Linked DNA regions of Homo sapiens. The protein of the gene in region 1 purifies or fractionates together with the protein of each later gene. This does not show direct contact. Each region holds a gene or a part of one and is shown in the gene's direction. Other genes may lie near its edges.

Evidence for each region.
Region 2: the proteins of CRACR2B (region 1) and CARD19 purify together in Homo sapiens (affinity purification with mass spectrometry; 3 studies listed by BioGRID and IntAct, with this or other methods). This does not show direct contact.
Region 3: the proteins of CRACR2B (region 1) and GHITM purify together in Homo sapiens (affinity purification with mass spectrometry, with the first as the bait; one large-scale study listed by BioGRID). This does not show direct contact.

Annotation. Positions count from the first base shown.
Region 1 is NC_000011.10:826,569-830,726, forward strand, and holds the start of CRACR2B (EF-hand calcium-binding domain-containing protein 4A), read left to right. Parts: upstream 1-1,350; 5' UTR 1,351-2,039; coding exon 2,040-2,204; intron 2,205-2,283; coding exon 2,284-2,395; coding exon of another isoform or gene 2,396-2,615; intron 2,616-2,791; coding exon 2,792-2,972; intron 2,973-3,399; coding exon of another isoform or gene 3,400-3,417; coding exon 3,418-3,564; intron 3,565-3,681; coding exon 3,682-3,769; coding exon of another isoform or gene 3,770-4,052; coding exon 4,053-4,145; intron 4,146-4,158. UniProt on the Homo sapiens protein: Plays a role in store-operated Ca(2+) entry (SOCE).
Region 2 is NC_000009.12:93,102,716-93,106,223, forward strand, and holds part of CARD19 (caspase recruitment domain-containing protein 19), read left to right. Parts: intron 1-3,508. UniProt on the Homo sapiens protein: Plays a role in inhibiting the effects of BCL10-induced activation of NF-kappa-B. May inhibit the phosphorylation of BCL10 in a CARD-dependent manner.
Region 3 is NC_000010.11:84,142,508-84,146,015, forward strand, and holds part of GHITM (growth hormone-inducible transmembrane protein), read left to right. Parts: intron 1-147; coding exon 148-247; intron 248-1,487; coding exon 1,488-1,599; intron 1,600-2,367; coding exon 2,368-2,509; intron 2,510-3,508. UniProt on the Homo sapiens protein: Plays an important role in maintenance of mitochondrial morphology and in mediating either calcium or potassium/proton antiport. Mediates proton-dependent calcium efflux from mitochondrion.

The DNA of each region.
Region 1 (4,158 bases):
TGCCCAGTGCAATGGCACAATCTCGGCTCACTGCAAACTCTGCCTCCCGAGTTCAAGTGATTCTCCTGGCTCAGCCTCCCAAAGTGCTGGGATTACAGGCGCCCACCACCACACCTGGCTAATTTTTTGTATTTTTAGTAGAGACGGGGTTTCGCCATGTTGGGCAGGCTGGTCTCGAACTCCTGACCTCAGGTGATCTGCCCCTGTCTCAGCCCCCCAAAGTGCTGGGATTACAGGCGCCCGGCCTACATGTTTATTGTTTAAAAACCGGGAAAGTATAGAGAAGAAAGTAAAGGCTCCCCACCCCTAGAGATAACCGCTGAAAGTATTTGGTCTGTTTCCTGCCCGGCTTTTTCCTACACACACTTTTTGGCGCCTTAAGTCGGGCTCCCCCCGGACAGGAGGGGCCCCTCCCAGGCGCTGGTGTCTGCGCCCGCCCCCCGCAGCCTTGTCCCTGCTCCGGGGGGTCCCTGGGTCTCTGGGGCATATCGTTGCTTCACTGCTCGCTCGAGCCTCCAGGGATCGGGCCGCCGGGGCAGCGCAGAGAGGCGGGGACAGGCGACAGCGGCGCAGAGTGGCTCCTCCCGGGGCCGGCCCAAGCGGGGGTCTCGGTGCCTGCGAAGCGGCAGGGGTCGCTCGGGGCCCAGTGCCCTCTACGTCCCGTCCGGGTCCCAGCTGGGGCGGGGCGCGCCCAGTGTTTCCGGGAGGAGCGGCCCGGGCGCGCGGCAGGTGCGGCGGCGCAACTCGCGGGTAGGCGACCGCTGGTCCCGCCGCTGAGGCCCCTCCACTGCCGCCCGCCCGGCACCCCCTCCGGGCCGCCGTGGCCCGCGCCAAACCTGAGCGTCTCGGTCGGGAACTCCGGTTACCCCCTCGGGGCGCAAGGCGGCAGGGGTAAGGGCGGGGTTGTCCCCCAGAGTTTCGGGGAGCACAGGAGGCTGGCCGCCCCACCCCACCAGCCCATCCTCCCACCTCCCTGGGGCCCTGCTGCCGCGCGGCTTCCGGCTGGGGTGGACCTCAGGTCTAGCCGGCAAGCCGGAGGGCGGGCGAGACAACAACGTGGCCTGGAGGCAATGGCCCTGGCCTCTCGTGTCCCCTTCTCTCACCCGCCCAGACTTGCCCTCTTTGGAGGTCGCCCGGGCTAAGGAACATGGAAGGACGCTGGGTGGAGAGTGAGGGGAGAGGATCCCAGCTCCCCGGTGGGGGAAGGCGGGTGTTGGTGGGGAGCAGCTTTGGGAAATCCGGGATCAGGACATTGTGTGAAGGACAGGTGGCTCTGGTTAGGGGGCGGGGCGTCCCTGCAAGGAGGTGGGAAGGGAGGCCCCAGGGAGTTCTGAAACGGGGAAGGGCCTCAGTGTTGTGGGGCAAGGGTGTTAGGTCTCGAATCTGGAAGTGTTCCTGAGTGGGGCGTCAGAGGCGAAGGGCTCTGCAGGCTGGGACCTTGCCCCTGCACTCTGTGGGCTCAGTTGTGGGGAGGGAGGGGCCGGTGGGCAGGAGGGAGAAGTCTGCCCTGCCTGCCAGCTGTCATGAGGCTGGGCCACACAGGCCCAGGCCAGGGGCTAAGGACTTGGTCAGGACTGGCTGAGCCCTCACTTGGGATCAGATCTCCAGTTGCAGAGTGTGAGGGGCTCCTCCCTCACTGACCCCAAGCCTGCTCCTCTCAGCTTTCAGGACCCCACCTTCCTTATCACCAGGTCTTCTCCACTGGCCCCTGAGATTGCCATCACCTCCAGCTCCTCCTCTCCTGAAGTTGGCAGCCCCTCCTGGGTTCCAGCCTCCTGAGATGCCAGACCCACTGGGGCAGTACCCACAGGCCCTGAGCCTACATCAACCACCCCAGTGACACCCCAAGCCTGCAGCATTTTCCACCCCCAGCCCCCTGGTCCCACCTTGCCTTCCGCCCACCTTCCCACCTGCTGCAGGGAGGGCCCTCGGCTGAGCCTTCAGACACACTTGCACCCCATCCGCTCCCCTCCTGAATTTCTTCTGACCCTCCCTTGGCTTCACAGCACCTGAAGGCCAGGCTGAGGCCCCCTGCTCTCATGGCCAGCCCTGGAAAGCCTGGGGCTGATGAGGCCCAGGAGGAGGAGGGGGAACTCGAGGGGGGCTCTGCAGGGCCGCGGGCTGCAATACTGGAGCAGGCTGAGGAGCTGTTTCTGCTGTGTGACAAGGAGGCTAAGGGCTTCATCACCAAGCACGACCTGCAGGTGAGTCCCCCACCCCAAGAGACTGCTTCGGCCCTGGGTTGACCGCAGCGGCTCATCTCTGCTCTCCTTCCCCGACCAGGGTCTCCAGAGCGACCTGCCCCTCACGCCAGAGCAGCTGGAGGCTGTGTTTGAAAGTCTGGACCGGGCTCACACTGGCTTCCTCACCGCCAGGGAGTTCTGCCTGGGCCTGGGTGAGCCTGTGGCCTGCCTATCCCCCACTGCCCAGAGCTGGAGGCCTGATCAGGAGGCCTGGCACTTGTGGCGCCCTGAGGGCTGCCGGTGCCTCTCGTCCTCCTCCCTCCAGGGCCCGTGCTTTGTCTGCACGCACTCGCGCCTGGGGGCTCCTAGCTGCGGTGGAGTGTGTGGAGCTGACCTTCCTGGCCCCCAGCTCCTCTCCTGTGCTAAGCTCCGGTAGGGCTGGGAGCTGGCCTGTCACCTCTTGTTTCCAGGCCAATAGGACCAGAATAAGGAAGGAAAACAGGAAACTGGGCCCTGAGAGAGGGCAGGATACTCGTTGGGAGGGTGAACGGGGACACAGCCACGGTGGCGACCCACAGCCCTGGTAATCGCTCGCTCCATGCCCGCAGGGATGTTTGTGGGGGTGGCGTCAGCCCAGGGAGCGAACCCCTGCAGGACTCCCGAGGAGACCTTTGAGTCGGGCGGGCTCGACGTGCAGGGCACGGCGGGCTCTCTGGATGAGGAGGAGGAAGAGGAGGAGCGATTCCACACTGTGCTGGAGCAGCTGGGGGTGGCCCCGGTCCTGGGCAAGTGAGTCGGCGCTGGCCCCGCTCCCACTGCCCGCTCTGCTGTTTCTCTGCCTGCATGCTGTCTGCCCTTGTCACCCGAGTGCTGGTTCTGCACAGGGTCTCTAGGCCGGGTCAGGCCCAGCCTAGCGTCAGCTGCGATTCCCTGGGAGGGACCCGGCATGATTTCCCGCAGAATTTGCATTTCATGAGGCAGCAGCCAGGGCTGCAGGGAGGAGGGGCAGCGCCGGGCGCGGGGCCACATACCGGCACTGCCCAGGGTACACACACCTCACCGACCACGCACGCCGGGCAGGGGCGAAAGCGCTCACGGGAGGGATGCCCTGCACGCAGCAAGTGCTCCTGTCCTGCCCAGGGGCGAAGAAGTCTCCTAAGGGTTTGCTGCTGGCGGAGGGAAGCCTGCTTCCCGCTTCTGCCAGCTCCAGCCTCAGTTCCCGCCCGCCCTCCAGGCAGCGGGCTGTGAGGACGCTCTGGGCCAGGCTGCAGCGCGAGCGCCCCGAGCTGCTGGGCTCTTTCGAGGATGTTCTGATACGCGCGTCGGCCTGCCTGGAGGAGGCGGCCCGGGAGCGCGACGGCCTGGAGCAGGCGCTGCGGAGGTGAGGGCCGGGGTGGGGTATGGGGGCCAATGGAGGGCCTCAGGGCAGCAGCAGAGGCGGTGCCAGGGGGCTGTAGCGCTGGCAAGTTCTCATCCGGGGTCGCCCGGTCCCCCGAAGGCGCGAGAGCGAGCACGAGAGGGAGGTGCGCGCTCTGTACGAGGAGACGGAGCAGCTTCGGGAGCAGAGCCGGCGCCCGCCGAGTCAGGTGGGCCTCGGGCCCCGCCCCTCCCGCCAGGCCCAATCCCACCTCGCTGGCCTCCCTGGCTCCGCCTTCTCTGAATTAATCCCTCCCCGACGGCCCCACCTCCGCGGGTCCAGGCTGCCCTCAGCCCGAGGAGATCCCACTGGGCCTCACGTATCACCCCCGTCCGGTCTTCTCCACCCGACCCCGCTCCGCCCGGGCCCACTCCCAGCCCCTGGCCCTCCGTGTACCTCTTTTGCATGGCCGAGCGGCCGGCGGAGGCTCAGTGGTCCTCCGTGCGTCCCAGAACTTCGCCCGCGGGGAGCGGAGAAGCCGTCTGGAGCTGGAGCTGCAGAGCCGCGAGCAGGACCTGGAACGCGCGGGCCTGCGGCAGCGGGAGGTGAGCACCCGGC
Region 2 (3,508 bases), on another chromosome or scaffold:
TTTGGGGTGGGTTTTTCTATTTCTGCAAAAAACACTTAAGATTTTGATAGGGATTGCATCGAATCTGTAGATTGCTCTGGGTAGTGCTTGCAGCAATGTTTTGTGGCTTTCAGTGTACAAGATTTTTGCCTTCTTGATTAAATTTTTTCCTAAGTATTTTATTCTTTTCAATGCTATTATAAATTGAGTTGTTTTCTTAATTTTTGGATTGTTCATTGTTAGTATGTAGAGATGAAATATTTTTGTGTGTTGATTTTATATCTTGCAACCTTGCTGCATGCTTTTAATTAGCTCTAACTTTAAAGAAAAAGATTTTAGGGTTTTCTATATATAAAATCATGTCATCTGTGAACAGAGAAAATTTTACTTCTTCCTTTACAATTTGGATGCCTTTTATTCCCTTTTCCTTTTTTTGCCTAATTGCTCTAGTTAGGACTGCTAGTACTATGTTGAATAGAAGTGGTAAGAGCAGACATCTTTATCTTGTTCCTGATCTTAAGAAGCTTTCGGTCTTTCACCGTTAAGGTATGATGTTAGCTGTGGGCTTTTCATATAAAAATGTCCTTCAATATATGAGGTGGGATGGTTCCAGGAATCCCCTCAAAATAATCTGAGGATGTTCAAATCCCTTATATAAAGTGCTATAATATTTGCACCTATACACATCCTTCCATATATTTTAAATTATCTCTAGGTTACTTATAATACCTAACACAATGTAAATGCTATGTAAATCGTTGTTGTACTGTATTTTTAAAACTTGTATTTTTTTGGTTGTATTGTTATTTTGTATTGCTTTTCCCCAAATATTTTATATCTGCTGTTGATTTAATCCCTGGATATGGAAACTGCAGAGATAGAGTGCCAACTCTATGGCCTTTATCATGTTGATGAAATTTCCTTCTGTATTAGTCCATTTTGTGCTGCTATAACAGAACACTTGAAACTGGGGAATTTATAATGAGCAGAAATTTATAGGCTCATGCTTCTAGAGTTTTGGAAGTCCAAGATCAGGGAGCTAGCATCTGGTGAGGGTCTTCTTGCTGTGTTATCCCATGGTGGAAGGCAGAAGGGCTAGAGAGAATGAGAGGGAGCAAGAGAGGAAGAAAACAAATTTGAAACTTCAAGCCCTTTTATAATTGGCATTAATCCCTTCAAGACAGTAGAGCCCTCATGACCTACATACCTCCCATTAGGTTCTATCTCTCAGTACTGTTACTTTGAGGATTAGGTTTCCAATACATGCTTGTTGACACATTCAAACCATAGCATCTTCTAGACCTAATTAATTGAATATTTATATCAAGAAAGAATGATGACATTTATCAAATGCTTTTTCTATGTCAACTGAAATGGCCATGTATTTTTTCCTTCATTCTATTAATGTGGTATATTTCATTGATTGATTTTTGATTTGTACATGTTAAACCATCCTTGTATTCCAGGAATAAATCAATGTATACTTCTTTTAATATGCTGCTGAATTTGATTTGCTGGATTTTATTAATTTTTCCATCAATATTCATAAAGAGTATTGGTCTGTAGTGTTCTTTTCCATTTTTCTTTTTTCACAGAGACAAGGTCTTGCTGTATTGCCCAAGTGTGGTCTTGAATTCCTGGCATCAAGTGACTCTTCTGCCTCTGTCTCCCAAAGTGGTTTTCTTTTCTTGAAGTGACTTTGTCTGATTTTGGTATCAGGGTAAAGCTGACCTCATAGAATTAGTTATGAAGTGTTCTCTCGTCTTCAGTTTTTTTTGTAAGTTTGAGAAGGATTGGTATTAGTTCTTCTTTAAATGTATGGTAGAATTAACCAGCAAAGCTATATTAGTTCTTCTTTAAATATATGGTAGAATTAACCAGCAAAGCTATCTGGTCCTGAGCTTTTCTTTCTTGGGACATTTTTGATTACTGATTTAATCTTACTAGTTATTGGTCAGATTTTCTATTTCTTCACAGTTCCGTTTTGGTAGATTGTGTTTTTAGGAATGTTTTCATTTTATTTACGTTATCCAATTTATTGGTATACAAATGTTCATAGTATTCTCTTATATTCCTTTTTATTTCTGTAAAGTTCATGGTAATGTCCTACTTTTATTCCTGATACTAGTAATTTGAGTCTTCTTTTTCTTTGTCAGTCTAGCTAGTTTTGTCAGTTTTATTGATGTTATCAAAGAATCAACTTTGGTTTTCTTGATTTTTCTCCACTGTTTTTCGATTCTCTATTTCATTTGTCTTCACTCTAATCTTGATTATATCCTTCCTTCTGTGAGCTTTGGGTTTAGTTTGCTCTTCAAGCTCTCTGGTCTTTACTTTTTCCTTTTCTCATTCCTTAAGGTGTAATGTTAGGTTACTGATTTAAGATTTTTTTAATATATGCATTTGCAACTATAATTTTCCCTCTCAGCATTGTTTTTGCTGCATCCCTTAGGTTTTAGCGCGGTGTAAGGTGTGTGTGTGTGTGTGCACGCGCGTGTGTGTGTGCGTGTGTGTGTGTGTGTGTGTGTGTTTCTGCCTTTCTCATGTTACCTCCTAATTTACCTCATGATTTCTCTTTTGACCCATTGGTTTTTTGTTTGTTTGTTTGAGACAGAGTCTTGCTCTGTCACCCATGCTGGAGTGCAGTGGCACAAATTCAGCTCACTACAACCTCCACCTCCCAGGTTCAAGGATTTCTCGTGCCTCAGCCTCCCAGGTAGCTGGGATTACAAGCGTGCGCCAACATGCCCGGCTAAGTTTTGTATTTTTAGTAGAGATGGGGTTTTGCCATGTTGGCCAGGCTGGTCTCAAACTTCTGGCCTCAAGTGATCTGCCTGCCTTAGCTTCCCAAAGTGCTGTGATTACAGGTGTGAGCCACCATGCCTGGCCCCATTGGCTGTTTAATTTTCACATATTTGTGAGTTTTTTTAGTTTTCTATTATTGATTTCTGGTTTCATTCTATGTGATCAGAAAATATTTTTTATATGATTTCAACCTTTTTGAATATATTAAAGCTTATTTTGTGGCTACAAACTTGTTTTGTGGCCTATCTTGGGGAATGTTTCATGTGCACTTGATAAAAATATCTCTTCTTTATTGTGGTATGGAGTGTTCTGTGTATGTCTGCCAGGTATAATTGGCTTACGGTGTTGTTGAAGTCCTGTTTCCTCATTTATCTTCTGTCTAGTGGTTCTGTCTCTTACTGAAAGTGGTGTTTTGAAGTCTCCAAATATTATTATAGAGATATCTATTTCTCCCTTCAATTCTGCCAGTGTTTGCTTCATATATTTTGAAGCTCTGATATTTGGTGCATATATGTTTATAACTGTTACATATTATTGATGAATTTATCCTTTTATTAATACATAATGTACTTTTTAATCTCTTCTAATCGTTTTTGACTTATAGTCTATTTTGTCTGATATTAGTATAGTTACCTCATCTCTCTTTTGTTTACTATTTGTATGGGTTTTTTTTACATCCTTTCATTTTCAACTTCTTTGTGTCTTTAGATCTAAAGTGAGTCTTTTG
Region 3 (3,508 bases), on another chromosome or scaffold:
AATAAATTTCCATAGTGAAGTTAGGTATATAGAAAGTACCAAGTTTCTTTAACTAGAGTTTTCTAGTGTAAAGGGATCTTGCATTTTATTTTATTAACGTTCTGTTTTCATGTGGGTGGTACGTGTCTTTGTTTGCATGTGTGTCAGGAATATGCCACCAAAACAAGAATTGGGATCCGGCGTGGGAGAACTGGCCAAGAACTCAAAGAGGCAGCATTGGAACCATCGATGGAAAAAATATTTAAAAGTAGGTGGCTATCTTTAGTTTTTAACCTAGAATCTATGGATATGTTTTAAGAGGTCCATGAACAACTTCCTAAAAATATATGTGTATTTGTGCATTTTCTGGGAAGACCACATTATTATTCTGAGATCTGACGACCCAGAAAAGATTGGTACTTTGCACTGGATTCAGTGGTTATCAATCATATTTCTTCCAGTGGAAATTTTACTTTCCTTTTTTTTAAAGAAAAGGATTATTAATATGCCATGGTCCAAAAGGTATACTCTGTTGAGAAAGTTCATTTTAAGTGTGTAGAATCCTCATTCAAGCATATAATATTTGTGTATGTTTCAGATTAAGAATAAATCACCAACACATAGATGTTAATAAAAGCCTAGCTGTCCAAGAAGAATCCTTTAACTCACTGCTCACATAGGGCCTCAGGAGGGCAGTACTTTAATATATTGCCAGTTTGGTTCAGTTTGGATATCAACTTTGCAAGTTCAGAAACTAGATTGTTAATCATCCTAAAGCTATTCAAAGAATACCACTGCTCCTTAATAATCTTGCAAAATGTCTTTACAGTGGGAGAGAGCCCTAATCAGTATCCTTCAGGTCATTTCTTTCTGATTTGACCCTAGAGACCAAATCATGCAAATTATGTAGTGACAGCCTAGTAATATTCTTAGTAAACGAATTAGACTAAAAGAATAAGATGCCCTTTATGAATACCTCTATTGAGTTAGAGTTGATTAGTTGCCTCTCAGTACCCTAAAACGGGAGCCTCCTCTCACTTGATTCTGCTGCATAAACACTGATTATATTTTCTCTTTTTTCTTGATTTCCACGTAAAGCATCATTTGTGTTAATACCATGCAGTATGGTATGACTGTTAACATTTCCTTCTCATTTTTTACTTTCCATGAATGTCATGTGAATATACTTCAACCTCTTATTAGTAAAATAATAGGTATCACAGAAGTAGCTCCACGTCTACAGGTATACTGCTCCCTCAAATATTGTTGGAGGGAGGTTGAAGATTCACCAAGCCTGATCCTTTCTTTTTTGTACTGATTTTTACACCTTTGTTTCAGGAGTGTTTTTTTCTACTGGTTACCTAACATTGAGGCAATTTCTGTACCCCATATGCACTGATTATGGCTTCTATTAAATATGGTACATGATTTGATTCCCTTGATAAATATTTTAAAGGCTTTGTCCAGATGTGCCAGTACTAACCTGCATTTCCTTCTGTGTTCTGCAGTTGATCAGATGGGAAGATGGTTTGTTGCTGGAGGGGCTGCTGTTGGTCTTGGAGCATTGTGCTACTATGGCTTGGGACTGTCTAATGAGATTGGAGCTATTGAAAAGGCTGTGTAAGTAAATTGTTTTAAGTAAACTGTTCCTAAACAACTCCAGCCTTAAAACAAAAATTCAAATTTTCTTCTCATTCCTATCTTTAGTCACTTTGGAATGTTTTGTGTCTAGTCTTTGTGTATACACACAAATAGAGAATCTCTTTTTGCTTCTTTGACATTTATTTATTCAAATCTAAATAAAAATCTTTTAGCAAGGTTATATGTGTTTAAGCAAAGAGAAAATATGAAATATGTTTTTTGTTTGTTTGTTTGTTTGTTTTTTTGGAGAGAGAGTCTTGCTCTATCTCCCAGGCTGGGGTGCAGTGGCGCGATCTTGGCTCACTGCAACCTCCGCCTCCTGGGTTCAGGCAATTCTCCTGCCTCAGGCTCCTGTAGGTGGGATTACAGGCACATGCCACCATGCCCGGCTATTTTTTGTATTTTTAGTAGAGACGGGGTTTCACCATTTTGGCCAGGCTGGTCTCGATCTCCTGACCTCAGGTGATCCACCCACCTCAGCCTCCCAAAGTGCTGGGATTACAGGCATGAGCCACCGCACCCAGCCAAAAATATGTTGTTTTTTATATGTGCTTGTATGTTTTATCTCATTTAGTCCTTACAGTAACTCCCAAGTATGCATAATTATCATAATTATTTCCATGATAAATGAAGTGAATAAGATTTAAAGTGTAAAATGATTTATCCCGAGGTCGCCCAGCTAGTGTGTGACTCAACCAGAAATCAAATCTGTAATTTCATAGATTAATCATGTCATGTTTCTTACAGAATTTGGCCTCAGTATGTCAAGGATAGAATTCATTCCACCTATATGTACTTAGCAGGGAGTATTGGTTTAACAGCTTTGTCTGCCATAGCAATCAGCAGAACGCCTGTTCTCATGAACTTCATGATGAGAGGCTCTTGGGTGGTAAGTCAGCTGTTTTTGTTTTCCTTTTTCATCTAAAGATCAAAAGATTAGATAAAATATATTGGAGGGAAGGGTTATTAAATGGAAAGAATACTGTATTGAACAAGTTTTTGTTCAAATAATGTATGAATTACAGGTTGAGCATCCCTAATTTAAAATCCAGAAATGCTCCAAAATCCAAAACATTTGTAGTGTCAACATGATGCTCAAAGAAAATTGTAGCATTTCACATGTTGGGTTTTTGAATTAGGGATCCTGAACCCTAACAACAATGAAGTGTAATGATAAATAGTCCGAAATCTGAAGTCTGAAACACTTCTGGTCCCAGACATTTCTGATGAGAGTTACTCAACCTGTATTAGTGCAGCTGAGATAAAAGTAGGAAGTTCATTCTAGGTAGGTCAGCTATTATTCTTTATTAAACATGTATTCGAATAATACCAGAGGAGTTAGAAATCAAACTTACAGAGACAACATTTTTGTCTAGCAGCAGATATCAGACAGCCTCTAATTTGTAGCAGTTTACTAAAAAAATAAAGCAAATGCAAAATCATCTTAGAAGTCAGAGGGAAATGCCTATGCAGTTAAGAGCAGAATAGTGCTGCTACTATTATTCCTAAGATTCTTGACCTTATAGAAGATTTTATATTTAATCGGTTTCTCTGGAGCCCTTGTTATTTTGCTAGATAAGAGAATTTGAATATGTGTCCCCTATTCTCCTGCTATTTGGTAGAAGAGATGAACTGGAATAAGTGGCACAGATACGCAATAAGAAAGTGCAAAGTCAGTTGAGAGTTTCTGTCTTGGACTGTTAGGCAAGTTCCGTGAAGGAGACATTTATTTCATCAGGGTTGTTGAAGGCTAACATGTCTCATTTATTTTAGAAGTAGACAAGAGGGCCAGGTGCAGTGGCTCACACCTGTAATCTCAGCGTTTTAGGAGGCTGAGGCAGGAAGATTGCTTGAGCCCAGGAATTTGAGACCAACCTGAGCAACATAG